Homo sapiens: one gene and its partners. The protein of the gene in region 1 purifies or fractionates together with the protein of each later gene. This does not show direct contact. Each region holds a gene or a part of one and is shown in the gene's direction. Other genes may lie near its edges. The genes, in order: SLC7A14, GOLM1, RMDN3 and FAM162A.

Region 1 (7,026 bases):
AGCAAGGACACTCTGCATTTCCCCTTCTACTCCTCCTTCATTCCCGCCCTTCCTCCAGGAGTGGGCCCTTATCACACACAATAAAGTCAATCATCACAGTGCCCTCCTTAGAATAGCACTTTATAGACCACAGAGTACTTCTATGATCCACCAACTTTTTACCCATCCTGATCTAACTCAGGAGACTCCCTGAAGCTGGAGGAGGCTCAATCCCACTCTCCTCCAGCCCACCCTGCCCCATCCCCAGAGGAAATATTGCAAGTGGTTATGTTACTAGGAAACATTCTCTTTCATACTGCACAGGCCTTAAACACGCCCTAGGAGCTGTTTGGTCTTGTACTGGTCAGCAGGCAGCCCCTCCCCCACCATGAGAAGAACAAGGTTGCTGGGCTTTGCTAGGACATCCTGTCCTCCTTGGTGGCCCTTGGCTCCACTGGAGGATCTTGGCTCCAGAGGAATAGGCAAAGAAATGGTCTACATGTGACCACCCTCTTTCCTTCAGGCTTTGAATCCCTTCTTGATGTCAATTTGGCCTTCATAGGCCTGGGGGGCCCCCCATATCTGGCCATATGACTGGTGGCTCCATTGCCTATGGCCAATTCTGAAGGCAGGGATGTTAGGCAGATCAATAATATGCGAGGGGAGTAGGTCCTGGGAGCCCCCAGTTAAGTGCTTATCACCTCCCCGATGCACATGCATGCCAGTGGCTTTGTCCTGTCCATACCCTGATTTCTCCCCGTAGGCAGAGTGTTGAAGGAGGGGTGGTAGGGTAGAGGGAATAGCAAAGACATTCTGCTCTCTATTTCCTCTTCTGCTCCTCCCTCGCATCTCCCTCTTCTCTGGGGGTGGACCCTTATAGCACACACAGTAAATGATTCCTGATTAAGCAAAGCCATAGTTGTCTGACAGCCATATAATCAGTAGGACTTGATTCTGTCCTGATGCCATCATTTGTCTGTTGGCCTGCCTGGATCCTAGGACTAAGCTAGAGAAAGGAAATAGAAATATGAGTCCTTATCTGGGTCCCAACAGTTAATAGGCTATAGACCTCTTAAGCACTTATCTTTGGAGATTTTATCTCTGGTGTTTCACAGTGAGAGGGAGTACGGATAAAACCCTGTAGGACCAGAAAGCAGAAGAGAAATGAGAGTCTTGTCCACGTGGGCAGGGTGCTCATGGTCCCTGCCAGGCCCTGGTTGCAGGGCATTGGCTGCAGCTCCTTCCTTCCAGAAATATCTGCTCTCCACTGAACTGTTAGCATAGCTCTGCTCATGGGGCTGAAATACCTGCAGACTTACTCCTCAGATATCAAAGGACCAGAGAGATAGAGAGTTTCTGGCCCAGTCCACTAAATTCACATGTGGGGAAATAATATTGAGCAAGGCCTAGAGGCCAGATGACTGGTCTACAGTAAAGGCACATGCCAGCAAGTGAATGGATCCAAACTGCCATGCAAGCCTCTGCCTCCAGGGGCAGGGCTCTTTCCTCTCCCGTGGGGCCTCTATCCATGCTGTTCTTCCCCTGTACCTCCAGCCCTGTCTTCTCTTGTTTTAACAGGTGAGCGTGATCTTAACTCTGATGGTGCCATATTATACCATTGACACGGAATCCCCACTCATGGAGATGTTTGTGGCTCATGGGTTCTATGCTGCCAAATTCGTAGTGGCCATTGGGTCGGTTGCAGGACTGACAGTCAGCTTGCTGGGGTCCCTCTTCCCGATGCCGAGGGTCATTTATGCCATGGCTGGTGACGGGCTCCTTTTCAGGTAAGGGCTATGCTCCATGAAATTTATCCTGCTCTGCCACGTCTGTCCAGGGAGAATGTCTACCCACTGTCAGACTGACTGTGATTTTGACATCAGTGCCTTTCACATGGACTGTGGACCTTGTTATGTATCCTGAAGAAAAGTCTGAGTAACAGAGCTCAGGCCCTGAAGCAGCCCCTAGTTTAACTCTGCAGTCCCTTAATCCAGCACAAGCTGATGTGTGTCCCCCCACTGTCCTCCCTCCTGTCGACATTGCGTGCTCCTTTGTGAAGATGATGGGGCCAAACTGCTGTACTGGGTGGCCTCCAGAAGGAAGAACCATCCTAGGGACATCTTAGGCCTGCCCTCACATTGAGGCCTGGTAACTGCCCCACTCTCCACAGCCCCTCTGAAAATGAAAAAAAAAAAAAGTCAACAAAGAGTAGATAAGACCCTCTGAACAGATCCTAACAATACCTGCAACACCAGCTGCCATTTATTGAACATTTGTGTGTCCTGGGTGCTGTGTATACAGTATCCCATTTAGTCCTCACAGTAACTCTATTTTGCATATGAAGTCTACTAGGACTCAGAGAGGTGAAACAAAATTGCCACAAATCCCTCAGCTACTGAGTGGCAGGTCAGGATTTGATCCCAGAACATCCGACTCCAAAAATCAGACTTTTAACCACACCAATATATTGGCAGTTCTTGCCCCCTACATTGGCCATGAAGTGGCCCATCTGCCCATGGTACAAAGGGGATGTGGCCCCAGCCCTTTGTTTCCAGCATGAGGGGCCTGCTGAGAAGGCATTCTTCAAGTGCACAAAGCAAGGAGTAAACCGTGGAGGCCAAGGAGCTCTCAGGTGTGCAGAGGGGGCCGGTTCAGGGACTTTGTCTCTGCAGACATCATCTTCTGACTCATTTCCCCTGCATACTCTCTGAAGCCATCACCAGATCAGAGCTGCTGTGATTAGGTTGCCGAACAGATCAAGAGGGGCCTAGGGTGATGGAGGCGTGGGAACTTCACACATCCAAAAGATTTTTCTGCTGTCAAAGAAACTAACAGGAAAGATACTGGGGCTTCAAACACATTTACAGTCTTGTGTGAACCATAAAAATAAGGGACCAGGAGGAGAGGGGAGAGGAGAGGGAGCCTATTGCACATGCCATTCAGTCGCTCTTCTTGGTCTCTTCTTCAGTCAGTAACTAGCTGGACATAAATCTGTATCTACGAGCACAGTTTCTCAATTACTGTGCTATTTTGCCAACTAAACCCATGAACTTTTGTTATAGGTGGTGTCTCAAGCTTTGGCATAAATCAGAATCCTCTGGAGGTCTTTTAAAGCAGTTTGCTAGGCCTCACCCTACTATGATTCTGGTATAGTAGTTATTGGGTGAAACCTGAGAATATACATTTCTAACAAGCTCCAAGAGAATGCTAAGATGCTAGTTCACAGGTCAGGAGGACCCCCAAGCAGGTCCATGACTTCCTCCAACCATCACTTTTTCACGCAGAGCCTGGGCTTCAATCTAGGTTTCTGAAAGACAGACCTCCTAGGTTCAATCAACCCTTCCCATTACATAATGATTAGGAACTTTACTAAAGAACTTTGCCTTAAAATCAAAGAACTAGTCTAGGCACAGTGGCTCACACCTATAATCCCAACACTCTGGGAGGCTGAGGTGGGTGAATCATGAGGTCAGGAGTTCGAGACCAGCCTGGTCAACATGGTGAAACTCTGTCTCTACTAAAAATACAAAAATTAGCCGGGTGTAGTGGTGCATGCCTGTAATCCCAGCTACTCGGGAGGCTGAGGCAGGAGAATCACTTGAACCCAGGAGGTGGAGGTTGCAGTGAGCTGAGATCACGCCACTGCACTCCAGCCTGGGGGACAGAGTAAGCAGAGTGAGACACCATCTCACCAAAAAAAAAAAAAAAAAAGAAATCAAAGATTTAAAGTGAATTCTTTTTTAATTATATACCAAATCCTGGGGTAGGAATAGCAGCTGGATTTAAAGTAGTGAATGCAGAAGTAAATTGGTGGAGCAGGACCAGGAGGAGTTAATCACACCAGCCTATTGATAGTTCTAGCTCCCTATGTTGGCTGCACTGGAATCGGTCACTGTAGCTCACCATTAACCCTCTGCTTGCCCGGCCCCTCCAGGTTCCTGGCTCACGTCAGCTCCTACACAGAGACACCAGTGGTGGCCTGCATCGTGTCGGGGTTCCTGGCAGCGCTCCTCGCACTGTTGGTCAGCTTGAGAGACCTGATAGAGATGATGTCTATCGGCACGCTCCTGGCCTACACCTTGGTCTCTGTCTGTGTCTTGCTCCTTCGATACCAACCTGAGAGTGACATTGATGGTTTTGTCAAGTTCTTGTCTGAGGAGCACACCAAGAAGAAGGAGGGCATTCTGGCTGACTGTGAGAAGGAAGCTTGTTCTCCTGTGAGTGAGGGGGATGAGTTTTCTGGCCCAGCCACCAACACATGTGGGGCCAAGAACTTACCATCCTTGGGAGACAATGAGATGCTCATAGGGAAATCAGACAAGTCAACCTACAACGTCAACCACCCCAATTACGGCACCGTGGACATGACCACAGGCATAGAAGCTGATGAATCCGAAAATATTTATCTCATCAAGTTAAAGAAGCTGATTGGGCCTCATTATTACACCATGAGAATCCGGCTGGGCCTTCCAGGCAAAATGGACCGGCCCACAGCAGCGACGGGGCACACGGTGACCATCTGCGTGCTCCTGCTCTTCATCCTCATGTTCATCTTCTGCTCCTTCATCATCTTTGGTTCTGACTACATCTCAGAGCAGAGCTGGTGGGCCATCCTTCTGGTTGTTCTGATGGTGCTGCTGATCAGCACCCTGGTGTTTGTGATCCTGCAGCAGCCAGAGAACCCCAAGAAGCTGCCCTACATGGCCCCTTGCCTCCCCTTTGTGCCTGCCTTTGCCATGCTGGTGAACATCTATCTCATGCTAAAGCTCTCCACCATCACATGGATCCGGTTTGCGGTCTGGTGCTTTGTGGGTAAGCAACTTCCTTTGGAGCCTTAAGAGTTCCCTTTTAAGGTCTTAAGCATGCTTATCCCAAAATTACCTCCTAGCTGGACTAGGCAACTCCGTTCCCAGAGAAATCTGGCTGGTTCTATGGACCCTTGTGTTCCGCCTAAGAGTCAATAAAGCCAGTTGTCCCCTTTCTGCCTGTAATGTTCTTAGTCATTGGTTCTGGAAAAATGATGTTGATTAATCCATCGCTTTACTGAATTACTGAAAGTTCTTTCTATATCAGGATAATTAATACCAGAAAAAGTCCACTTAAAGTGAATCCACATTTTTAAGGTGACAAAAATAGCATAGTATAATTGGGGTCAGGGCATTTGGATGGAATTTTATCATAGAAACTAAGAATTGTAAAATGAAAAACTATCTTAGATTTCACAAAATTAAATTAAAATAGCAATTATGCTCTCATTTTTAAATGAACAAGGTGTGAATTAAGTGTGGATTTTTTGGCATAATTTTTCTGACAAAATTGAATCATGGCATCATTTAACATCTCTCACTTCATACTGACTTTTGTAAAATATTCAAAAGTTTTTCATATTTCCCAAGGTCCTTTCTTCATTCATTGACATTCCAATCATTCACTTGGGAAGTACCCATCATGCCACCATCCTTACTGATTTTCTCTCTCCTGCTGGTAATAACTAATATGACTCTGTTAGGTCCTCAATTGTCTACAATTTTGGGTGTGAATTCAAATTGTTCTCTAAACTCACTTTCACGGACTTCAAGAAGTCCTGTACCTTCTCTAAGATTTCTAATTTTACTTTGTGATCCATTTCTATTGTATTTGCAGTACTTGCTTATCATCTAGGACAATCTCTGATGTTCATGAGGTGGCTGGGGATTGATGCTAGTAAGAACTTGAGAAGTGTAATGGAAGACTCATTTTAAAGTTCCTTAGTCACTATTTGTATGTCCTCTGAACAACTTGGTAACCCTGGGGTCTCTGATAACAAATTCTTAGCTAAAGAGGATCTTTAGAAGCTCTGGGGAATAGAAGAGTAAACCCTGCCTAAAGGAGAGGCAAGACAAACACACGAGTCACTTAGCCCAAGAGAGGCCAAAGAGACTCTTTTTGTTGTTGTTGTTGTTGTTGTTATTTGTTTGTTTTGTTTTGTTTGTTGTTGTTGAGATGGAGTCTTGCTGTGTCGCCCAGGCTGGAGTGCAGTGGCTTGATCATGGCCCACTGCAACCTCCGCCAACCAGGTTCAAGCAATTCTCCTGCCTCAGCCTCCTGAGTAGCTGATATTACAGGTGAGTGCCACCATGCCCTGCTAATTTTTGTGTTTTTAGTAGAGATAGGGTTTCACCATGTTGGCCAGGCTGTTCTCGAACTCTCAACCTCATGATCTGCCCACCTCAGCCTCCCAAAGTGCTGGGATTACAGGCATGAGCCACTGTGCCCAGCCCACAGAGACTCTTAGTGATGAGTGGCAGTGCATCCACTCCTAGAGATCAGGAATACACTTGTTCAACATGTGTCCTCCGTGTCTGGAGCAGGGTGCCCGCAGTATGTGCTCAAAAATACTTCTTAAATTATTATAAAGTACTCTTCAAAGGGGAAAAAGGAAAACTTCCAGTCAGAATTGCCAGAAAAAACTTGGAGGGGGTAGAATACAAAGTGGCCCTATAAGTTAAGATATAGATAGAAAGAAGTGGGGGAAAAAGTAGCAACCAATGGAAAGGGCATATGTCTTCCCCAGAGGCCTGACTCCTTGCTTCTGAAGGCTGCTCTATGGCTTCCTGTAAGCATTTTGTCCCAATTTTTCACTATTCTAAGTCCCCCTGGTTAGACTTCAGGAGGATTTCTTGAGAGGACCCCACTGACTCATCAAGATTTTAACCAATTTTTATAACACATTTACAATCTCTTGGCTGGGCATAGTGGCTCACGTCTATAATCCCAGCACTTTGGGAGGCCGAGGAGGGCAGATCACCTGAGTTTAGGAGTTCGAGACTAGCCTGGCCTACATGGCAAAACCCCATCTCTATAAAAAATGCAAAAATTAGCCAGGCGTGGTGGCAAGTGCCTGTAATCCCAGCTACTTGGGAGGATGAGACAGGAAAATTGCTTGAACCCAGGAAATGGAGGTTGCAGTGAGCTGAGATCACACCACTGCACTCTAGCCTGGGAGACAGAGCAAGACTCCATTTCAAAAAATTTTTTTAAAAAAATTAATATTTTAAAACTTTTTAA
Region 2 (7,026 bases), on another chromosome or scaffold:
TATTTTGCTGTCCTGTGTTTGCATTTATTAGTGGAATAAACAGACCTCTGACTTGGTAGGTCTGGGGTCGGCCACAAAATTTGCATTTCTGACAAATTCCAAGGTAATGCTGATGCTGCTAATATGGGGACCACACTTTAAGGACCATTGAACTACAGCAGGAGTTGGCAACCTGTTTCTGAAAAGGACCAGATACTATTTTAGATGTTGCAGACCCTGTGGTCCCTGTCACAACTACTCAGCTCTGCTGTTATAGCCCAGTAGCCACAGATAATATGTAAATGAATGGGCATGGTTCTGTTCCAGTAAAACTTTATTTATGGATACAGAAGTTTTAGTTTCATGTAATTTTCATGTGTCATGAGATATCCTTTTATTTCCAAACCAAAAAAAAAAAAAAAACCTATCGAGCAGTTATCATGTGGTGTGTACTTTATTGCCGCTGTAATTTTTAATCCTCACAACAAAAGGTTTTACATATTTAAAGTCTCATATCACTGCATCCTAGAACATGGGGTCAGTAGTAAGCCTACTTCAATGGACTTTTACAAGGATTGAATAAGATACAGAGAGGGGGATTATACAACTCACCAAAATTCATGCAAATAGTAAGAAAGCTAGGATTAAAATTCCTTTTGGCCTGACCCACATCAGTACTCTTTTCCTAAGCCACACTGCCTCAACAGTACCGCTAAGGAAGCACTCAAAATAACAGGTAGCTAAACTGACATCTAATATCACTTCATGGCATCCAAATTCTCCAAGGAGCACTGAACCAGGAGTCACCTGCCAGGTCAGTCTCCATCCCTCTATCAGTAGGTCTGTGTGCGAGTTGGGGAACACTGCAAGTTTCAGCTGGTTCTCGGTTCTTCTTGGTTTTCAGCCCTGCTGGGCTCTTTTGGGTCTTTCCCACGCGCGCATAATCTTCCAGGCAGCCAGGAATATGTGGAGAATTTATCTCAGCCCTTTGAAGCACTCTGTCATGAAATATTATTCTTTTAACTTTCTTCAACCATTGAAAATGTAAAAACTGGCCAGGCACGTTGGCTCATGCCTGTAATCCCAGCACTTTGGGAGGCTGAGGTGGGCGGATCACTTCAAGTCAGGAGTTCGAGACCAACCTGGCCAACATGGTGAAACCCCATCTCTATTTTAAAAAAAAAAAAAAAGGGAAAATACAAAAATTAGCTGGGCGTGGTGGCATGTGCCTGTAATTCCAGCTACCTGGGAGGCTGAGACATTCGAATCACTTGAACCCAGGAGGCAGAGGTTACAGACAGCTGAGATTGCGCCACTGCACTCCAGCCTGGGTGACAAAGCAAGACTTCGTCTCAAAAAAAAAGAAAAAAAATGTAAAAACTATTCTTAATTTGTGGGCAGTGTACAAAAATAGATGGCTGGCAGGATTGGGCCCTTGGGCGGCAGTTTGTGACTCAAGGAAAAATTGAGCTCCTACTGAGATGTATTCTTTTTTCTTTTCTTTTCTTTTTCTTTTTTTTTTTTTTAGACGGGGTTTTTGCCCAGGCTGGAGAGCAATGGCACTATCTCGGCTCACCGAAAACTCCGCTTCCCAGGTTCTAGTGATTCTCCTGCGTCAGCCTCCCAACTATCTGGGATTACAGGCATGCACCACCACGCCCGGCTAATTTTGTATTTTTAGTAAAGACAGGGTTTCTCCATGTTGGTCAGGCTGGTCTTGAACTCCCGATCTCAGGTGATCCGCCTGCCTTGGCCTCCCAAAGTGCTGGGATTACAGGCATTAGCCACCGTGCCTGGCCCAAGATGTATTCTTTTTTAAATATTTTTTTGTAGAGACAGGGTCTCCCTGCATAACATTGCCCAATCTGGTCTCGAATTCCTGGGCTCAAGTGATCCTCCTGCCTCAGCCTACCAAAGTGCTGGGATTATAGACGTGAGCCATCGTGCTGGCCCCAGGATATATTCTTGACGGTGGTTCAACCTTTCTTCAGAAAATTTCAAAACAGGAAGAATTTGGTTCCCTAGTTCATTTTCACTCATCCACCTCGCTTTTTGGTGTTTCTACTACCTACCACTATACATTCATTTTAAAAGTTTTAATCTTTAGACACTGTCAGCTTCTAGCATTGGGGAAAAGATGGTGTTCATTTTGGGGAAGTGAGAGGAAGAGAGTCTGTGTATTTCCTAGTAAGTTTTTAAAGCAATTTAAGCAGAACACAGTGACCTTGGTCATTTAATCCCAATGGGTTAGAGGCAGAGTTGACAAACTGTCTAAATGGTCAGATGGTAAATGTTTAATCCTCACAATACCCTATGGGCAGAGTTGGTCTGTGAGTCTCTGTCTCTGTCTCAACTTTTCAGTTCTACTTTGTAGCCAGAAAGCAGCCATAGGCAGTATTTATGGCAGTGTATAGTAAAACTTTAAAAAAAAAAAAACCAGGCCCGGATATGGCCTGTGGGCCATAGTTTGCTCACCCCTGGCTTAGAGACATTCTTGGGACAGGGTGGAATATTTCCAGGCCATCAGAAAACTTGGTGACTGATTCTTTCCCGGACTCCAGGCTGCGCCGGGGTGTGCTCAGGTCTGTTTGCTCATTGCAGTGACTTCTGAACTTCCTGCTGAGCCGCTGGGGCCATTCCTCTGAGAAGGAGTTAGAGGTGTGGCTCCACCACTGTTTGGAGAAGCCCAGTTTCTGCACTGGTTGATGTTGGTCAAACATGCTAATCTGACGCGATTGCTCCTATATATTTGCTTTTCTGATTTAAAGCCCTATATGAAAATAAGGAAATGTTAAACATAATATTTGACTAGGAGGGTCAAGGGGCTCGTGTATTTGGCATGTTGTCCATTTTCATATGCCTTTTCTTTCTTTTAAAAAAAGTAATTAGAAGGCTTTGTTAAATTACAAACATTTTGTCTTAAAAGCAAATAATAATTTTAACCAATAGGTTGAATTTTTAAATTAAGCCAGTAGGTAAGAATATGCAGTTTTTTCCTTTTCTGATTTATCAAGTGATTTTTTTTTTTTTTTGACAGAAATCTTGCTCTGTCGCCCAGGCTGGCATGCAGTGACGCAATCTCAACTCACTGCAACCTCCATCTCCTGGGTTCAAGCAATTCTCATGCCTTAGCCTCCCAAGTAGCTGGAATTACAGGTGTGTGCCACCACACCCAGATAATTTTGGGGTTTTTTTGTTGTTGTTTCTTTTTTTTTTTTTTTTTTTGAGGCAGAATCTCGCTCTGTCACTCAGGCTAGAGTGAGTGGCGCAATCTTGGCTCACAGCAACCTCTGCCTCCCAAGTTCAAGCGATTCTCCTGCCTCAGCCTCCCAAGTAGCTGGGATTACAGGCACACACCACCATGCCCAGCTAATTGTATTTTTAGTAGAGACAGGGTTTTGATATGTTGGCCAGGCTGGCCTCAAATTCCTGACCTCAGGTGATCGTCTGCCTTGGCCTCCCAAAGTGCTGGGATTATACACATGAGCCACTGTGTACACCCAGCCTATCAAGTGATTTTTAATGTGAAAACACACCACTTGTTTTAATTTTGGGAAAGCCTGGAGCCTCACAGAGTTTAGCTGATTTAAGTTAATCATTTTCAGTATGTTGGAAGCTTATAACCAAGTATGAGACAAACATATTCTGAAGCTTAAATGAAAATGAATATTAAATTAATACCTCTGTTTGATGCAGTATATCACTCACCCACTTCCATCTCATCCGCAATCCAAATAAATTCTAAGGTGGGAGAAGGGAGAGTGTCTGATGTATTTGACCACCATAAACTCTGCCTGTGAGTTCCTGCCACCAGCCTTCATCAGTCTTGATCATTTCTCGCCAGTGTGTGTCCCTTATCCTTCAGCAGCAAGGGTTTCTACAGTCCTGGAAGCCTGTGAGGAGGCACCTTGCAGGCCTGAAGCCTCATTGTGTTACTTCCTTTCCTTGTGTCACTATTTACCTGGGCAGCCCTGCTCCCATTGGGAGCCCAGGGCTCTCCTAAGAGTGCTGTCTAGACAGCTGCTCACCTTCCTGGCCAGCCAAGCACTGGGTGACAGTGAGGGGCTTCCAGGATTGTATGACTTCCAGGACTGTTTGAGGCTTGGCTTCCTCAAACCTTTTTCATAATATGATCCTGGTCTGGGATGTCCACGGCCTCAGTGGCAACTGTAGGTCAGCCCCAGGTAATGGCAGGTACTGCTATTTTAGTTGGTGGCAGAGTCAGGAGAAGGAAAGAGGAGGACTGGTTGCTATAAAGTAGAATGGTTATGGAAGGAAAACATGCATCACTGTTTCCTCATAAAATGGAAAAAAGATTGAATCTAGAAATGATTTGTTGTTCATCTTTCCATCCCTAATAGTTGTCAACATTTGTTGAGCAATTACTATGTGCCAAATGTAGCTCTAAGCGCTTCTCACTCAACTCACTGAATCCTCTTAAAAACCTTGTGAGCAGGACAGTGATGCACAGACAGGTCCTGTGTCCCCTGAGTGGTAGAGCAAGGGTCAGACATGGTTGTGGGGTTCCAGTCTTGGAGTTCCTGAGTGGTGGAGCCAGTGTCAGACATGGCTGTGAGGCTCCAGTCTGTGGGGTTCCTGAGTGGTGGAGCCAGGATTCAGATATGGCAATGGGATTCCAGTCTGTGCTCTTAATACCACCCTGAGCTGCCTGATGTGAATACAGCACCTGACTCATGGTAGCTGCTCAATAAATTTTTTATTGGCTGTTTAAAGAAAAGAGAATATTAAATGGTTATCTGTACACTTCCCTTGAAGTGAGAATGGAGTTTATTTTCTGCTTTCAAATTTATAATATACCCCACCCACTGACTTACCTCTACTAGAATAACAAAAGGCCTTGCAAGGGTCACATCTAAAAGTATTTTGTCAAGCCATGTGCGGCAGCATGTGCCTACTCGGAGACTGAGGTGTGAGGATTGCTTAGGTCCAGGAGTTCAAGGCTGCAGTGAGCCATGATTGTACCACTGCACTCCAGCCTGGGCGACAAGATTCCATCTCTTTAAGAAAAAGTATATTGTTAGAAAATTTAGTATATAACAAAGATAGTTGTTCAAAGCAGTAGGTAAAAATAGATTATTCAGTAGAGGGCCCTGGCAGAACTGGCTTGTCACTACAGGAAAAAAAAAAGCTGCATTCTTTGTATTTCCTTACTTCTGCATTCTTTGTATTTCCTTACTCCTTACATCAAAAAGGAGTTTTAAATGGATGAACAATTTAAATGTAAATATGAAACTGTACATTGGAAAAAAATGTGGGTAAGTTGTTTATAAACTTAGAATAGGAAATGCCCTTCTAAATATAACAACAATCGAGAAGTAATAAAGGATTGACAAGATTAGGTTATTTAAAACAACAACAGAGTGGCTGGTAAGATGGCCAAATAGCAACAGCTCTGGTCCGCAGCTCCCAGCGAGATCAACACAGAAGACAGGTGATTTCTGCATTTCCAACTGAGGTACCTGGCTCATCTCACTGGGACTGGTTAGACGGTGGATGCAGCCCACAGAGGGTGAGCAGAAGCAGGGTGGGGCATCGCCTCATCTAGGAAGTGCAAGGGGTTGGGGAACTCCTCCCCTAGCCAAGGGAAACTATGAGGGACTGTGCCATGAGGGACAGTGCACTCTGGCCCAGATACTACGCTTTTCCCATGCTCTTCGCAACCCACAGACCAGGAGATACCCTCAGGTGCCTACACCACCAGGGCCCTGGGTTTCAAGCACAAAACTGGGCGGCCATTTGGGCAGACACTGAGCTAGCTGCAGGAGTTTTTTTTTTTTTTTTTTTTTTTTTTTTGGTACCCCAGTGGCACTTGGAACGCCAGCGAGACAGAACTGTTCACTCCCCTGGAAAGGAGGCTGAAGCCAGGGAGCCAAGTGGTCTAACTCATTGGATTCCACCCCAATGGAGCCCAGCAAGCTAAGAAACACTGGCTTGAAATTCTTGCTGCCAGCACAGCAGTCTGAAGTTGCCCCGGGATGCTCGAGCTTGGTAGAGGGGAGGGGCATCCGCCATTGCTGAGGCTGGAGTAGGTGGTTTTCCTCTCACAGTGTAAAGAAAGCTGCCAGTTCGAACTGGGTAGAGCCCACTGCAGCTCGGCAAAGCCACTGTGGCCAGACTGCCTCTCTAGATTCCTCCTCTCTGAGCAGGGCATCTCTGAAAGAAAGGCAGCAGCCCCAGTCTTACAGATAAAACTCCCAGCTCCCTGGGACAGAGCACCTGGGGGAAGGGGTAGCTGTGGGCACAGCTTCAGCAGACTTAAATGTTCCTGCCTGCCAGCTCTGAAGAGAGCAGCAGATCTCCCAGCATAACACTCAAAGTCTGCTAGGGGACAGACTGCCTCTTCAAGTGGGTCCCTGACCCCTGTGCCTCCTGACTGGAAGACACCTCCTAGCAGGGGTTGACAGCTCACCTCATACAGGAGAGCTCCGGCTGGCATCTAGTGGGTGCCCCTCTGCGACAAAGCTTCCAGAGGAAGGAACAGGCAGCAATCTTTGCTTTTCTGATGCCTCCACTGGTGATACCCAGGCAGTGTCTGGAGTGGACCTCCAGCAAACTCCAGCAGACCTGCAGCAGAGGGGCCTGACAGTGAGAAGGGAAACTAACAGAAAGGAATAGCATCAACAAAAAGGACATCCACACAGAAACCCCATCTGAAGTTCACCAATATCAAAGACCAAAGGTAGATACATCCACAAAGATGAGGAAAAACCTGCACAAAAAGGCTGAAAATTCCAAAAACCAGAATGCCTCTTCTCCTCCAAAGGATCACACCTCCTCGCCAGCAAGGGAACAAAACTGGACAGAGAATGAGTTTGATGAACTGACAGAAGTAGGCTTCAGAAGGTGGGTAATAAACTCCTCCGAGCTAAAGGAGCATGTTCTAACCCAATGCAAGGAAGCTAAGAACCTTGAAAAAAGTTTAGAGGAATTGCTAACTAGAATAACCAGTTTAGAGAAGAACATAAATGACCTGATGGAGCTGAAAAACACAGCACGAGAACTTCGTGAAGCATATGCAAGTATCAA
Region 3 (7,026 bases), on another chromosome or scaffold:
GGAAAGCAGGTATTCTTGAATTCTGGGTGTGAGATCTCTTCCCCACCATATTCCTGTGTGTCACTGGCTCCCATTCGTTTCCCCCTTCAGTGATGCTCCTGCGGGCTGTCCCAGGTGGGGCTGGAGATGCCTCAGTGCTGCCCAGCCTTCCACGGGAAGGACAGGAGAAGGTGCTGGACCGCCTGGACTTTGTGCTGACCAGCCTTGTGGCGCTGCGGCGGGAGGTGGAGGAGCTGAGAAGCAGCCTGCGAGGGCTTGCGGGGGAGATTGTTGGGGAGGTCCGGTGAGTAATGCGGCTTCTTCTCCTGCTTTATCCCTCCCCTGCAGCTTTTCAGCTGGGGTGTGTTCTGGCCTTCGCTGTCTGTCTCTAAAGAATAAACCAGTTCTATAGCTTCTAGCCTAATCTGGGTTGAAGCTGTACATTTGGTACCTCGCCTTGCACATGCTCCTTGCTGCTTCTGGACTCTCATGGTTGATCTGTTGTAGCAGCTGAAGCGCTCTGTTTGCCTAACCTAGTCTGTCTGTGCGGGCTGGGCCCAGGAAGCTGCCCTGCTTGCCCTCCTGAGGGTTAGAGACTTAGGATTTTCTCTGCTTTTAGCCCTTTAATGAGGAGCAGTAGTAAGAGGCACCCCATGGTGAGCAGAAAGACAAGCTGGATGGGACCTAATGGTACCCTTCGGGATGGGGCCTGCTTTCCAGATGCCACATGGAAGAGAACCAGAGAGTGGCTCGGCGGCGAAGGTTTCCGTTTGTCCGGGAGAGGAGTGACTCCACTGGCTCCAGCTCTGTCTACTTCACGGCCTCCTCGGGAGCCACGTTCACAGATGCTGAGAGTGAAGGGGGGTGAGTTGTCTCTCTTGGAGGCAGTTATGGCTACAGCCAGGTTGTGTTTTGTAAAAGTATTATCAATGGAAAATTCAAACCAAGCTGCTGCAAATGATTTTTGGAACAGGTAAGAGTATAATAAATACAGAAGAGTTGAAACAAAAAACCCATCCAATTTATGTCATTCAGACAAATGTAGATGTTAATAGCAGTTATTGCTTGCATCTGTTATCTTAGTTTATTACATAGTTATGATATATTATTTGGGCATTTTTCTGTGTTATCACAAGGACTTGATAAGCATTGTTTGACTTTGTTCCTTTCCTTGGGTGGCTGAGCTGGTATACGGAGATGTCTAAGCACGAAGCATGCTCCTCCCTGGGAGTCACCCTCTTCCCACAGGGGAGCCTTGCCTGTGATCCTTTGCATTTTTACAGGTGGGAGGTGGATGTCCTGAGTTCTCAGTGGCCCAGGAGGGCTGACGATAGGCCTTTCTGTGAGGCGGGGCAGCTGGCAGGAGTCTGGTGGACAGCCTCCTCCAAGTCTGGTCATGCTAAGGGTGTTTTGAGTTTAAACCACTAGCACCACTTTGAAACTCTGGTCCCAAGGATAGAGTGTGATGTCAGTAGCAGCATCTGACCCATCTGACCTTATCTGCTGCTAGCTCCAGTTATTCAGGTAGCCTGTGTGAGGCCTAGAGGCCGATTTCTCCTTGTCCAGCCTTTATTCTTCTTAAGGGAAAGACTGGTGTAGAGAACAGCCAAGTTTTATGCTGGATCAGAGGAATTAGCTATAAGCAGGTACATGGAAACTAGAAGTTAAAATCAGTCCAGGTGTGGTGGTGGCTCATGGGTAATCCCAGCACTTTGGGAGGCCGAGACAGGAGGATTGCTTGAGTTCAGGAGCTTGAGACCATCCTGGACAAGGCAGCAAGACCACGTCTCTACATAAAATAACTACCTGGGGGAGGCCAAGGTGGGCGGATCACCTGAGTTCAGGAGTTTGAGACCAGTCTGGCCAACATGTCGAAACCCTGTCTCTACTAAAAATACAAAAATTAGCCAGGTGTGGTGGTGCATGCCTGTAATCCCAGCTAATCGGGAGGCTGAGGCAGGAGAATTGCTGGAACCCAGGAGGCAGAGGTTTCAGTGAGCCGAGATTGCGCCACTGCACTCCAGCCTGTGAGACAGAGTGAGACTCCATCTCAAAGAAAAAAAAAAAAAAAAAAAAAAACGAGCTGGGCATGGTGGCATGGGTCGGTAGTCCCAGCTACTTGGGAGGCCGGGAGTTTGAGGATGCAGTGAGCCATAATTGTGCCACTGCACTCCAGCCTGGGTGACAGAGTGAGACCCTGCCTCAGAAAAATAAAATACAATGTAAATACTAGGTGATAGGAATTTTTCAGCTCCATTATAATCGTATGCACCCACTGATATGCGCAGTCCGTGGTTGACTGAAATGTCATTATCACCAACGCTGGATTTGATGAGTGCTCCGGGGTCTCCAGAAACCTGTGGAGTGGTGGTGAAGAGCTCTCTGCTCTTCCATGGGGGACTGCTGTTGCCTGGGTTGTCAGATCCCTGTTATCTGCATTCTCAAGGGCAAACAGAGGTGGCCCTTTTCTATTCAATTTACCTAAATGGCTCTGGGCCAAGAGATGCTTCCAGAAGTTGTGTTAAAGAGGGGGCAAAAATGAAATTAATATTTGATACATCTGAATTGAAGAGAGAGACCGAGGAAGTAGTTGATAGTGGGCACTGAGATGTAAAGAACATCTCTGCAACCCAAGGAAGCAGGCCACTTGGGTGGGGAATTGATGTTTGAACTCTGTAAGGAGGTTGAACAGAAGGAGAGGTCACAGCTCTGCCCAAAATCAAAGAAAGCTTGAGGCCCTTCACAACTGTTTTTGTTTTTGTTTTGTTTTGTTTTGAGACAGGGTCTCACTCTGTTGCCCAGGCTGGAGTTCCATGGTGCCATCACAGCACAGCAGCCTCAACCTCTTGGGCTCAAGTGGTGCTCCTGCCTCAGCCTTCTGAATAGCTGGGACTACAGGCATGTGCCACCATGCCCAGCCAATTCTATTTATTTTTTTTGTACAGATGGGGTCTCACTGTGTTGCCCAGCCTGTTCTTGAACTCTTGGCCTCAAGCAGTTCTCCCACATCAGCCTCCAAGTGCTGAGATTACAGGTATGAACCACCGCACCTGGTCCTCTTTGTGATGATTTAAAGAAGTTGTACTAGGCCAGGCGCGGTGGCTCAGGCCTGTAATCCCAGCACGTTGGGAGGCCAAGGCAGGTAGATCACCTGAGATCAGGAGTTCAAGACCAGATGGCCAACATGGTGAAACCTCGTCTCTACTAAAAATACAAAAATTAGCCAGGCATGTTGGCAGGCACCGGTAATCCCAGCTACCTAGGAGGCGGAGGCAGAAGAATCACTTGAACCCAGGAGGTGGAGGCTGTAGTGTGCCAAGATGGCACCACTGCACTCCAGCCTCGGTGATAGAGCAGTACTCTGTCTCAAAAAAAAAAAAAATTACTGAGGCTGGGGTGTGGAGGCTCATGCCTATAATCCCAGCACTTTGGGAGGCTGAGGTGGGCAGATCACTTGAGGTCAGGAGTTCGAGACCAGCCCGGCCAACATGGTGAAACCCTGTCTCTACTAAAAATAGAAAAATTAGCTGGGCGTGGTGGTGCATGCCTGTAATCCCAGCTATTCCGGAGGCTGAGGCAGGAGAATCACTTGAACCCAGGGGGTGGAGTTTGCTGTGAGCCGAGATTGCACCACTGCACTCCAGCCTGGGTGACAGAGAAAGACTCCATCCCAAAAAAATAAAGAAGTACAAACTTCTGGGGTCAGTGGGAGCCAGAGCAGTTAACCAGGGACACCTGGGGGTCCTTCACTGCTAGGGGTGCTCACTGGGACTCCCAAGGCCACAAGGAGCAGGCCAGGGCTGCCAGACACCTGTGATGGGGCAAGGGGAAGAGTGGATTTCTTAATTATAGCGCCTTCAGGCTGTGTCCCATGCCCAGTCCCGTGGCATGAGAGCAGGTGGTGGTGCAACACTGTGTGGTTGAGCCGGCTGTTCTCTAGGGCAGTGGCCGTGGTGAATGATTCTTTGTGCCATGGTCATTGCCATGTAGGTCAAGGGGGGAGCTCTAGGAGTCTACAAACTCTGAAATGGCTTTGAACATGTGTGTCTTGGGGCAAGGAGAGCTGCTTTGAGGGATGAAGGGCTGAGATTTGATGGGCTGCTTGATTTCACTGAAAGCTGTATTCCTTCCTTCTTCCAAATAACAACTTTGAGGTCTCAGGAGATTGAGGGTGGCAGAGGCAGAATCACTGTGCAGCTCTGTGAGCTTGTTCCCCGGGCATTGTACCAAACACAGCTTGAGTTCCCTCTGTCAGAACCCAACTTGCCCTAAAATACCAGCTCCTCCAGCAAGCCTTCCCAGGCATCTCAGCCAAGAGAAATTGCCTGCAGCCTCATCGTGAAGACTCCTTCTTGGGCATTTATGACCTCATTAAGTTGGGTCTTATCTCAAGGTCAGGGTCCATGTGCCTGGTTATCTTTGAAGGCCTCATACTCAGTCTCTAACATGGTTTAGGTTAAGAGAAACTTAATTGCCAGGAGGAGAGATGTGTGTAACTGAGTCCTTCATTACTGCTTAAGAGTAGAGTGGCAGTCTCTGCTCAGAGGGAGCCTTGGGTCTCTGGCCCACTGTGGGAACTCCTGTCCTCCGGAGTGCACAGGACCAAAGGGCCTTTTCAAAGGTCCCTGCTCGTCTCTGGCAGATCTCAAAAGCCTCAGGGTATGTTAAAAGGGTCACTCCTCTCTGGTAGATTTCTCCAAAGGCTGGCTGGGTTAGTCTGGGAGGTGGAAAGTGAGAGAGAATGGTGTAAATGTGGTAGCCCTTGGCATGTGATTAATCTCTTCTGAGGCCCCAGAAGCTGCCTCAGGCAGTAGGGTTTCAGATTGTTGAGGGTTCCTTAAAGTGGGGCTGAGATGCAATTAAAGTCTACTTTCTATGCCAGCTTCCCTGGAGCCTCCCTGCCTCACAGGGCTCTACCATCTTTCACTCTGTTTGTGGCAGCAAGGCTCCCTGACCTCTCTTCTTGGCTTTGTGAGCTGGGCCTTTAGGATCCAGAGGGATGGCAGCATCGCAGCTCAGGTCCCAGGGGATTCTGTGCTGATGCCTGGGCTCCAGCAGGGCTAGGTCCCTCCCTGGGAGTGCTGGAGGCAGAGAGACTCCTCTTTGGACTCCTGATTGGCTGAGGCAGCCCTCAACTCAGCAAGAAATAGGGTCTCCCCCTCCTTCTAGCAAAGGGAGATGATGCAATTCCAGCTTCCCGTTCCAGATAAACCATCTACCCATTTTGCATTTGGGCCTGGCTGGGCAGAGGAGACTCTGGTTTGATTTTTCTCAATCTGGCAGGTGCAGTTGGGAGTTTCATTCTCTAGGTTGCCTGTGGGTGGTCTCCCTCATCAGTACCCAGGTTGGTTACGAAATCTAATGACACTTATCCTTGTCCCTTTGATTTCTAAAGGTGTTTTTTTTTTTTTCTAATAACTAAAGGGGAAATCTACTTGGATAACCTCTTAAAAAACAAAGGTGCAGTTAGGAAAGGTTTTAAATACCTTACAAGTTCTTGTAGTAGATGTGTCTGGGGCCTCTTTTTTAGATGAGGCTGAAGCTCCTCTGTAAGGATGCAGTCAGCACGGACTGGGTACCAGGTCTGGCTGCTCACTTCCAGAGCCTTCAGAGCCTGCCACCTTGTGGTTTCTGGTTTTCTGGGCAGGACAGCACTTCTGCCCTGACATTAGGCTGTCAGTTGTTGACTTTATTTGTAGGTGGTGTGTCATCTCTCCTTCAGTCCTGTTTTGCTCCAGCCACAGGGAGCCTATTCTTTTTTTTTTTTTTTTTTGAGACGGAGTCTTGCTCTGTCGCCCAGGGTGGAGTGCAGTGGTGTGATCTCCGCTCACTGCAAGCTCTGCCTCCCGGGTTCACGCCCATTCTTCTGCCTCAGCCTCCCGAGTAGCTGGGACTACAGGCACCTGCCACCATGCCTGGCTAATTTTTTGTATTTTTTAGTAGAGACAGGGTTTCACCGTGTTAGCCAGGATGGTCTTGATCTCCTGACCTCCTGATCCGCCCGCCTCGGCCTCCCAAAGTGCTGGGATTACAGGCGTGAGCCACCGCCCCCAGCCTTGTGTTTGCTTCTGACCCCCAGAAGTCCTACCTTTTCCCCTGCTCAGTCCTTATCTATTTTAGGCATTTAGGGAAAACACCCTAATCAGCTGCTGGTGGCTGAGATCCAAGAGAAACTCAGCTTCCTCTTTAGTGGGTGCATCAGGGTTGGGGCTCCTTAGGAGCCACCTGGCATATGGCAGCCCCCCAAACACCTTTTCAGGGGGTAGTTTGCATTGTCTTCCCCTTCTTGCTTCTGGCTGCAAAGTGGTTCCTATCACCTCTCCTCACACCCTTAAGTTCTCAAGGTTACTATGGGCTACTCCTGTTGCGGTTTAGGTTTGGTTGTTGACTTGGGCCAGAGGTTGCGAGTTTGTGGATGTGTGTGTGGCTGCCCATGGCCTGAGGCTGCACCCACCCATGTTGGTTGTGGCAAGTGTCTCTGACTGATAAGGCAAAAACGAGCAGGGACTTCTCACATTTGCCTTAACTGTCACAGGGCCTCAGCTGGTTGTCTGCTCTTTCCTTCCTGGATCATTTTCCCAGCCCTTAGTTCCCATAGGAAACTTTCTCTCAAATAATGATTTCTGCTGGGCATGGTGGCTCATGCCTGTAATCCCAGCACTTTGGGAGGCCGAGGTGGGCGGATCACTTGAGGCCAGGGGTTTGAGACCAGTCTGGGCAACATGGCAAAACCCCGTCTCTACTAAAAATACAAAAAAATTAGGTGGGAGAATTGCTTGACCCCAGGAGGTGGAGGTTTGAGTGAGCCAAGATCGAACCACTGCACTCCAGTCTGGGTGACAGAGCGGGACCCTGTCTCAAAAAAAAAAAAAAAAAAGAAAAAAAGTCTGCCCTTAAGAGGTATGAATGATTGTGATTTGGTGCTTTGGACAATGCCATGTAGAGTGCTTCTTTGGGGGTGAGGGATAGACAGACCCTAGGGGCTCTGAGCTGAATAATCCTCTTGTTGTCCCTTACATTTCTCTGCCAGTTACACAACAGCCAATG
Region 4 (7,018 bases), about 48 Mb from region 1:
ACTGTACTCCAAAGAATGATATGGAACTCCCTTAACCTTTCCTCTCCTCTCCCTTTGCCTGATGGTACCCAGAAGTAATGTCATTGGTACTTGACATCAAAGTCCCTTTTACATGATGCTCTTTTCAGACAGATCTGGTTCCTCAAACTCTATTTTTACATCAAAGCTCCCACGGTGCTTCCCCCAAACCAGAAACACAAACTTGTCTACAACTGCCAGAGTCCTCTAACACCCAGCATCCCCAGGACAGGAATAGAAAGCAGCCCTGTAAGCATAAAAGAAACCATCATTGATGCTAGAAAATAACCTATTTAGTACCTAATTACAATGTGATTCAAAAATCACTTATGTGTCAATGAATATTCCTAATAGAAATACTAATATTTAAACATGCATGTTGAAGTGCTGGGGGGTGGGTATGATGAAAGAGACACGTATGAGGACAATAATAAGAGACATGACAAGAGGCACTTTGGGATTGGATTTTAAAAGGTCTTATATGCCATGTTAAGAAGTTTATATCTAGTCATATGAACCCAAAACTCAAAAGCATAGCTTAGATTATAAAATTCAGAATATAATAGCATATGCCACAGTATTATGGAGATTAGATTGAAGGGGGAATATAGTAGAGAAAAAAAGTGCCAGAAGATAGGAAGGCCTGTTGCAAAGCTAGTTTCAAAAATGATACGGGCCTAAACAAAGCCACTGGCAGTAGTGATGAATCTTCCTAAAGCACCTCTTCGATCATCTCACCCCTCTGCCCAAAAAGGACTCCCTAACTCACACGTGACACACAAGGCTTTCCACAAATCTGGTTGCAATCTTGTGTAATCCCAATGTGCCCCTGTATGAATAATGTGTTCTAGCAATACTGATTTTCTATTTCCTTTAAATACATAAAACTTTTTTGTCTATTATCCTATTGCCTCTGCCTAGAATACCCCTAGTCCCTGCCTGCCTAAGGCCCAACTCTCTAAATTCTTTCAGCATTTTATTCTTTTTTCTTCCCAATATTTTCTACATTTTATAGCCCTACTTAGATTACGTTCCTTGTTTTATACTCCATCCACTGGGTTTCGCAAGTGCCAGGAGACTAGTAGGTATCTGTTACGGGTTGAATTGTGTGTCCCCAAAATTCATGAATCCCTAATCCCCAACATGACTGTATCTGGAGATAGGGCCTTGAGGTATGTAATAAAGGTTAAACAGAGGTCATAAGGGTGGGCCCTAATCCGATAGAACTGATGTCCCTATAAGAAGAGGAAGAGATAGGCTGGGCGCCATGGCTCACGCCTGTAATCCCAGCATTTCGGAAGGCTGAAAGGGGTGCGGATCACCTGAGGTCTGGAGTTTGGAACCAGCCTGGTCAACATGGTGAAACCCCATCTCTACTAAAAATACAAAAATTAACCGGGCACGGTGGTAGGCGCCTATAATCCCAGCTACTCAGGAGGAGAATCGCTTGAACTCGGGAGGTGGAGGTTGGAGTGAGCCAAGATTGTGCCACTGCACTCCAGCCTGGGGGATAGAGCGAGACTCTGTCTCAAAAAAAAAATAAAAAAAAAAAAAAAAAGAAGAGGAGGAAGAGATAGCAGAGATCCTTCTCCTTCCAGGTGCAGGCACAGAGAAGAGATAGTGACATAGAGAAGACATGGTGAGAAAGCAGCCATTTACAAGCCAGGAAGAGAAGCCTTACTATAACTAATTCTGATGGCACTCTTTTTCCCCCCTTAAATCAAACTGTATAGCCTAGAAACTGATGGCAGCTTAATCTTGGACTTCTAGTCTCCAGAACTGTGAAAAAATAAATCTCTATTGTTTAAGCCACCTAGTCTGTGGTATTTTGTTATGGCAGCCCTAGCGGACTAATACAGTATCTAATAAATTCTTGAATGCATGCTAAAATGGGATTCTAGGCACTCGATTTTAAACACTCTTTTCTGGATTTTATTTCAATTTGGAAATAGGATATTTTACAGAAGTACTAAATCTAATTTTTATAATGAAAAAATAAGAGTTGCAAAAATTTTAAACACTTTAGGCCGGGCGTGGTGACTCACGCCTGTAATCCCAACACTTTGGGAGGACGAGGCAAGAGGATTATTTGGTGAGACACTCTCGCTACAAAATTTCTTTTAAAAAATTACCCGGGCGTGGTGACACGTGCCTGTAGTCCTAGCTACAGGGAGGCTGAGGCAGTATTCAAGAATACCACTACCTTCAAACCGTTCAAAGTACAAAGCTTACTACAGATAGGTCAATTTTTCAGTATCTTGGGTTAGTTAATAATGCAATACATATTTAAGATCATGATTTTGGAATTCAACTTTGTAACTAAACAGAAGCACATTTATGACTGAATTGGAACAGATAACTTTAATGGCAACTTGGTCAAAACCAGATCCCTATTCTTGCATTCAGGTGTTAATAATTAGCCCTAGGTCTCTGATATTTGAACATAAAAAGGCAAAACCTCTAAATATTACATCTTCTCTAATGGGCAATGACACTAGAGCAGGTACTATAATTAATCCTCCCTCCAAGCTTCCATACGTCCTGTCCCACAAAAATAGTAAATTGCACCAAGTATGTTTTATCAACTAAATAGCTCTTCTGCACCTTCTTCTCTCCCACAAAAACTCTACTTACAAAAGTAGGAGAGGAATGGCAGAAGCTGGAAACTGAGTTCAGGGAACTGCTACAAGATTGTTACAATCCTTATCCACGCATCCCGAGCTTTACCACAGCAGATTACCCAGAGCTTCCCAGACAAGGCCGGAGAGCCGCGGAGAGAACTATGACCCCCCTCCTCCCTCCTCCTACAGAGCAGCCTCGCTCCCTAAGGCCAAACCCGCGCCCCCCATGACCTCCAATGGCTCGAGAAAAGAGCTTTGAATTGCCCGCTTTTTCCAAAGCTGGTTCATACTCCCTCGCAAAGCAGGGAATAGGGTCTGGGGACAAAAGGAGGCACATGCCTGCCACATGAGGAAAACCCCATCACCTGGAACTCGGCGAACTCCTCACAGTTCACACCGCCACTGGGCGCCGCCATATTGGACAAACACGAGGACCCCGCTGCAGGCCAATCACCGCGGAGCAAAGGTGACCGCGGAGTCGCCTGACAAAAAATATAGTACGAGGGGAATCCTTAGGAAAGCTGAGTGCAAGGCTTGAGTTCAACGTGGTCCGCATCCACCTCGGAACCTGTCACCCTGCTGTCCCAACCCTTTTAACATGTCCTCCTGGAACTGGGCCAGATACATGGATCAAAGATTGTCAGACCTTGAAGGGACTGTTTACTCCAATCCCATCTTTTCACAAAAGGGAAACAATTTCCTTGTGGTTCCCCTACCAGGTCGTTGAAGGAAATCTAGGCAAGTGAGGCCTTTCTAATACCTCTCACTCCAGTGCCTAACCTCCTCCCCGGACCCTGGAGCAGGGGGGTCTTTGTTAAGAATTTGGGACCACTAAGAAACGTCAAGAAAAAACGGCATTTCTGGCAGTGTGGGTGGGTATGAGTAAAGTGTTTAGGATGGAGATGATCAAATGTTTTTAGAAAATAGGTAAATAGAAAACAAATTGAAAACATACATGTTAATTTCTCAGATTAGCCTGAGGGATGCTCCAACAAGAGATAGGGCCACTGAGCAGAGTCCAATTATGTGTTTTCTGATAAAAGCATATGTTCATTGAAAACACTGGAAGAGCGGCATACTGGAATACTGGTTTATCTGGTGTATTTCGGGAGTTTACAGATCACGAAAGTTGCACATTTCCTTTCTATTTCACACAGGTACTCCCATGGGTACATATCCGCTAGGGCAAGGGCCCACGGCGCCACACTCCACAGGACCATCTCCGAGGCTGGCTCAGGATGCGGCGCCAGGGGCACTAGGCTGGCGCCGCGGGTCTCCAGCGCGTGGCGCACGTCCTACACGCCCCGCACTGGCGCAGGCCTGTACACCGCGTCGCGCACGCCCCGCCCCCCGGCGCCGCCTGCGTCCTTCCCACTCCAACGCTGGGTGACATTGAGCTCACCAGCGCCACCGTCCCCGGCGAAGTTCTGCGCTGGTCGGCGGAGTAGCAAGTGGCCATGGGGAGCCTCAGCGGTCTGCGCCTGGCAGCAGGTGAGACGCCGGTCGGGATATGGGAGGTAGGGGAGCTGGCCCGGCCGCTGCGGGTGGGGGAATCCTGAAGCCTTCCTGGGCCCCGGAGTGGCTCCATTCCATGACGCACTTTCTCGGTTCCTCAGAATCCTACCTACTTAGTAGCCATGTGGGAGGGAACTAGGTGAGCAGCTGCTGATAGGCATTGGAGACTGCCCGTGAATTACCCTCATCTCCATCCACCCAGCTCCCACCAACTTAACTGCCCACGCGCCTACCCTTCTCCCCACCCCCGTCCTCAGCCTCCCCTGAGCTCAGTCTGTAAAGCACCTACTATCCCTAGACCTCCCCTTTACCCATGCATTCAGCTTTCCACCCTAACCTCCCCTATCTATTGCTCTCCTTGAGTCTTCCCTCTTCCCCCTGCTCCTTCCTCTCTGGAGTTTATCCCAGAAAACCTCCAGTCTGAAGTTTCCCCACTCATTAAATGTCTGATTAGGCCAAGGATTTAGGTCTTAGAGATTAATAATAATTGTTTTCTTAAAATGGAGGATACATTACTTTTAAACACTTATACAATTAATTGATTCGAATTTCTTGGAGGAAGTGTGTAATTGAAGGATCTGCAGTTTGTTTTGGTGGTAGACATTTGTGTGATGACTATTTTGGACTTAGGTAATGAAAGCTTAATTCTTTTTTTTTGGGAGAACCAGCAGAGCCTTGGCATAGTAGGGGTTGAGAAATCAGAGGGCTTGCATTTTGACTCTTTTCTGGGTACCAGAGATCTTTTGTTCAATGGCACACACTACATTATTAAAAAGTTGTTAATTAAATTTTTAAAGGAAAAATAGCCCCAAACTTGGCTATTCAAATAATATAAATATATATTGTAATGTAAATGAAGTAATGCAAAAAAAAAGAGTGAATGTTGCATAGTTTCACAAGTTTGATACATAACCTTCCCCACCTCAAGATTATCCTTTACACAGCTTATCTAGTGTTCCGGTAGAGAATGGACTGGAAAACATGTCTCAAACTAGAGAGTATTATTATATTTACTTCCTTTAAAAGCAAACACTTCTTCCACTAAAATCCTCAATACTATGATTTCATTGATTTTGTCAGTTTTGTTGAACTAATTCACCTAAAATATCTTCTGTACATCCTATTAACATTATGAAGCTTTTCAACAAGGCAAGTGAAAGGATCATTGCTCTGTAAAAAAGTTAAAATGGACTGCATGAAAAGAACTTTGACATCTTGGAACTACTTTGACATCTTTGAACTAATACTGAGTATATTGTAAGTAGTTCATCTTCTTGCTTTGAGAATATATTTATGCATCTTGCATAAATATATTTTTGCATCTCTGCAAACTTCTGATGTGTAAAAACTTCACTATTGACCACTTAACCAAAGCAGAATTCCTTGAGTGATTTAAGAACAATTTATTTTACTTCAGATATAAAATTTTTAATAGCACACTAAGGATGTTATATGAGCAGCTCTCTCCATATGATCTTCCACGAATGTCTGATGCTTTGTGAGCAACTCCGCAACAACCTACTACCTTTCACCCACTTCATAGCTAAATACTTTCATATACATTATTTTGTTGGATGGATTTCTCATAGCAGCCCTCTCAGGTAAGTCTTATTCCTCCCACACTTTATAAATGAAGAAACATAGGTCAGAGATGACTTGTCCAGGATCTCTTTGCCAAAAAATGTTAGAGCCAGGAGAGGGTACCCTTTAATTCTGGAATTTTTGTGCTTTTTGCTGTTGTTCAAGCTGTTCATTCAGGGGCTGTGCGTGTGTGAATTTGTCATGACTAATTGGATCTCATTAATCTGAAATGGAAGAGTCATGAAATGCAGATTTAGTTCTGAAATGAAAGTACACCTTCATGTGCAAATGGCTTTTCAAGAAAGAAGACTGCTTTAATAAGCAGCCTTAGCCAAAGGAATGAAAGATCAAATAGAAATGTAGGCTCAATGTGGTGGCTCACACCTGCTATCCCAGCACTTTGGGAGGCTGATACTGGAGGATTGCTTGAGACCAGGAGTTTGAGACCAGCCTGGCTAACTTAGCAAGACCCTGTCTCTACAAAAAAAACTTTTAAAAATTAGCTGGGCATGGTGGCTCAAACCCATAGTCTCAGCTACTCAGGAGGCTGAGGCAAGAGGATCACTTGAGCCCAGAAGTTTGAGGCTGCATTGAGCTATAATACGATCATGCTACCACATTCCAATCTGGACAACAGAGTGAGACCCTGTCTAAAAAAAAAAAAAAAAAAGAAAAGAAGCATAATCTAGGCATACCTTACTTATCCAGAATATTTGGAATAAGATTCTCTAGGTAAGTGAAATTTCAGATGATCAAAACTTAACCTTATAAATGATGGACCTTTACTTTTGTTTCTGTTGGAAATCTTTGGTATACTCCCTTAGCAAACAATATAGCAAACATAATGTAGGCTTTTATGAGCTCGAATTTGTTGTTTTGTAGATGTAGTTGTAGATACAGATCAGGGTTGTTAACTTGTGGTACTGGACACCTCCACATTTGAGAGGTCCTGTGAACTTCTCAAATTTTTATGATTGTATACCATTTTTGAGAGAGAGGGTCCATATTTTATATCTGCTACTCAGAGCAGTTCATGCTCTTTAAGTTAAAAAGCACTGATACAGATGATTAGGAACTAAATGGCCATTTACCCACACTACGCTGGGTTTCATAAGGGTAAACACTGGCTCTGTTTTGTTTTTACTCAGTCCTTACCACTTATTGGTGTTCAGTTCATAGTAGACAGGCAATACATATTTTTTGGATGAAGGATGCTAGGAAATATCTTGGAACATGCTGCAAATGTAAGGTGAGTTTTCACACCTGTTTTCTCCTGAAAGAAT

What was found.
Region 2: the proteins of SLC7A14 (region 1) and GOLM1 purify together in Homo sapiens (co-immunoprecipitation; 3 studies listed by BioGRID and IntAct, with this or other methods). This does not show direct contact.
Region 3: the proteins of SLC7A14 (region 1) and RMDN3 purify together in Homo sapiens (affinity purification with mass spectrometry; 2 studies listed by BioGRID and IntAct, with this or other methods). This does not show direct contact.
Region 4: the proteins of SLC7A14 (region 1) and FAM162A purify together in Homo sapiens (affinity purification with mass spectrometry; 2 studies listed by BioGRID and IntAct, with this or other methods). This does not show direct contact.

What each region holds. Positions count from the first base shown.
Region 1 is NC_000003.12:170,478,054-170,485,079, reverse strand, and holds part of SLC7A14 (solute carrier family 7 member 14), read left to right. Parts: intron 1-1,557; coding exon 1,558-1,766; intron 1,767-3,913; coding exon 3,914-4,791; intron 4,792-7,026. UniProt on the Homo sapiens protein: Imports 4-aminobutanoate (GABA) into lysosomes. May act as a GABA sensor that regulates mTORC2-dependent INS signaling and gluconeogenesis. The transport mechanism and substrate selectivity remain to be elucidated.
Region 2 is NC_000009.12:86,089,554-86,096,579, reverse strand, and holds part of GOLM1 (Golgi membrane protein 1), read left to right. Parts: intron 1-7,026.
Region 3 is NC_000015.10:40,745,243-40,752,268, reverse strand, and holds part of RMDN3 (regulator of microtubule dynamics protein 3), read left to right. Parts: intron 1-90; coding exon 91-283; intron 284-598; exon of another isoform or gene 599-699; coding exon 700-843; intron 844-4,534; exon of another isoform or gene 4,535-4,638; intron 4,639-7,009; coding exon 7,010-7,026.
Region 4 is NC_000003.12:122,380,170-122,387,187, forward strand, and holds the start of FAM162A (protein FAM162A), read left to right. Parts: upstream 1-4,012; 5' UTR 4,013-4,096; coding exon 4,097-4,130; intron 4,131-7,018. Other genes in the region: protein MIX23, read right to left, coding at 3,005-3,055. UniProt on the Homo sapiens protein: Proposed to be involved in regulation of apoptosis; the exact mechanism may differ between cell types/tissues.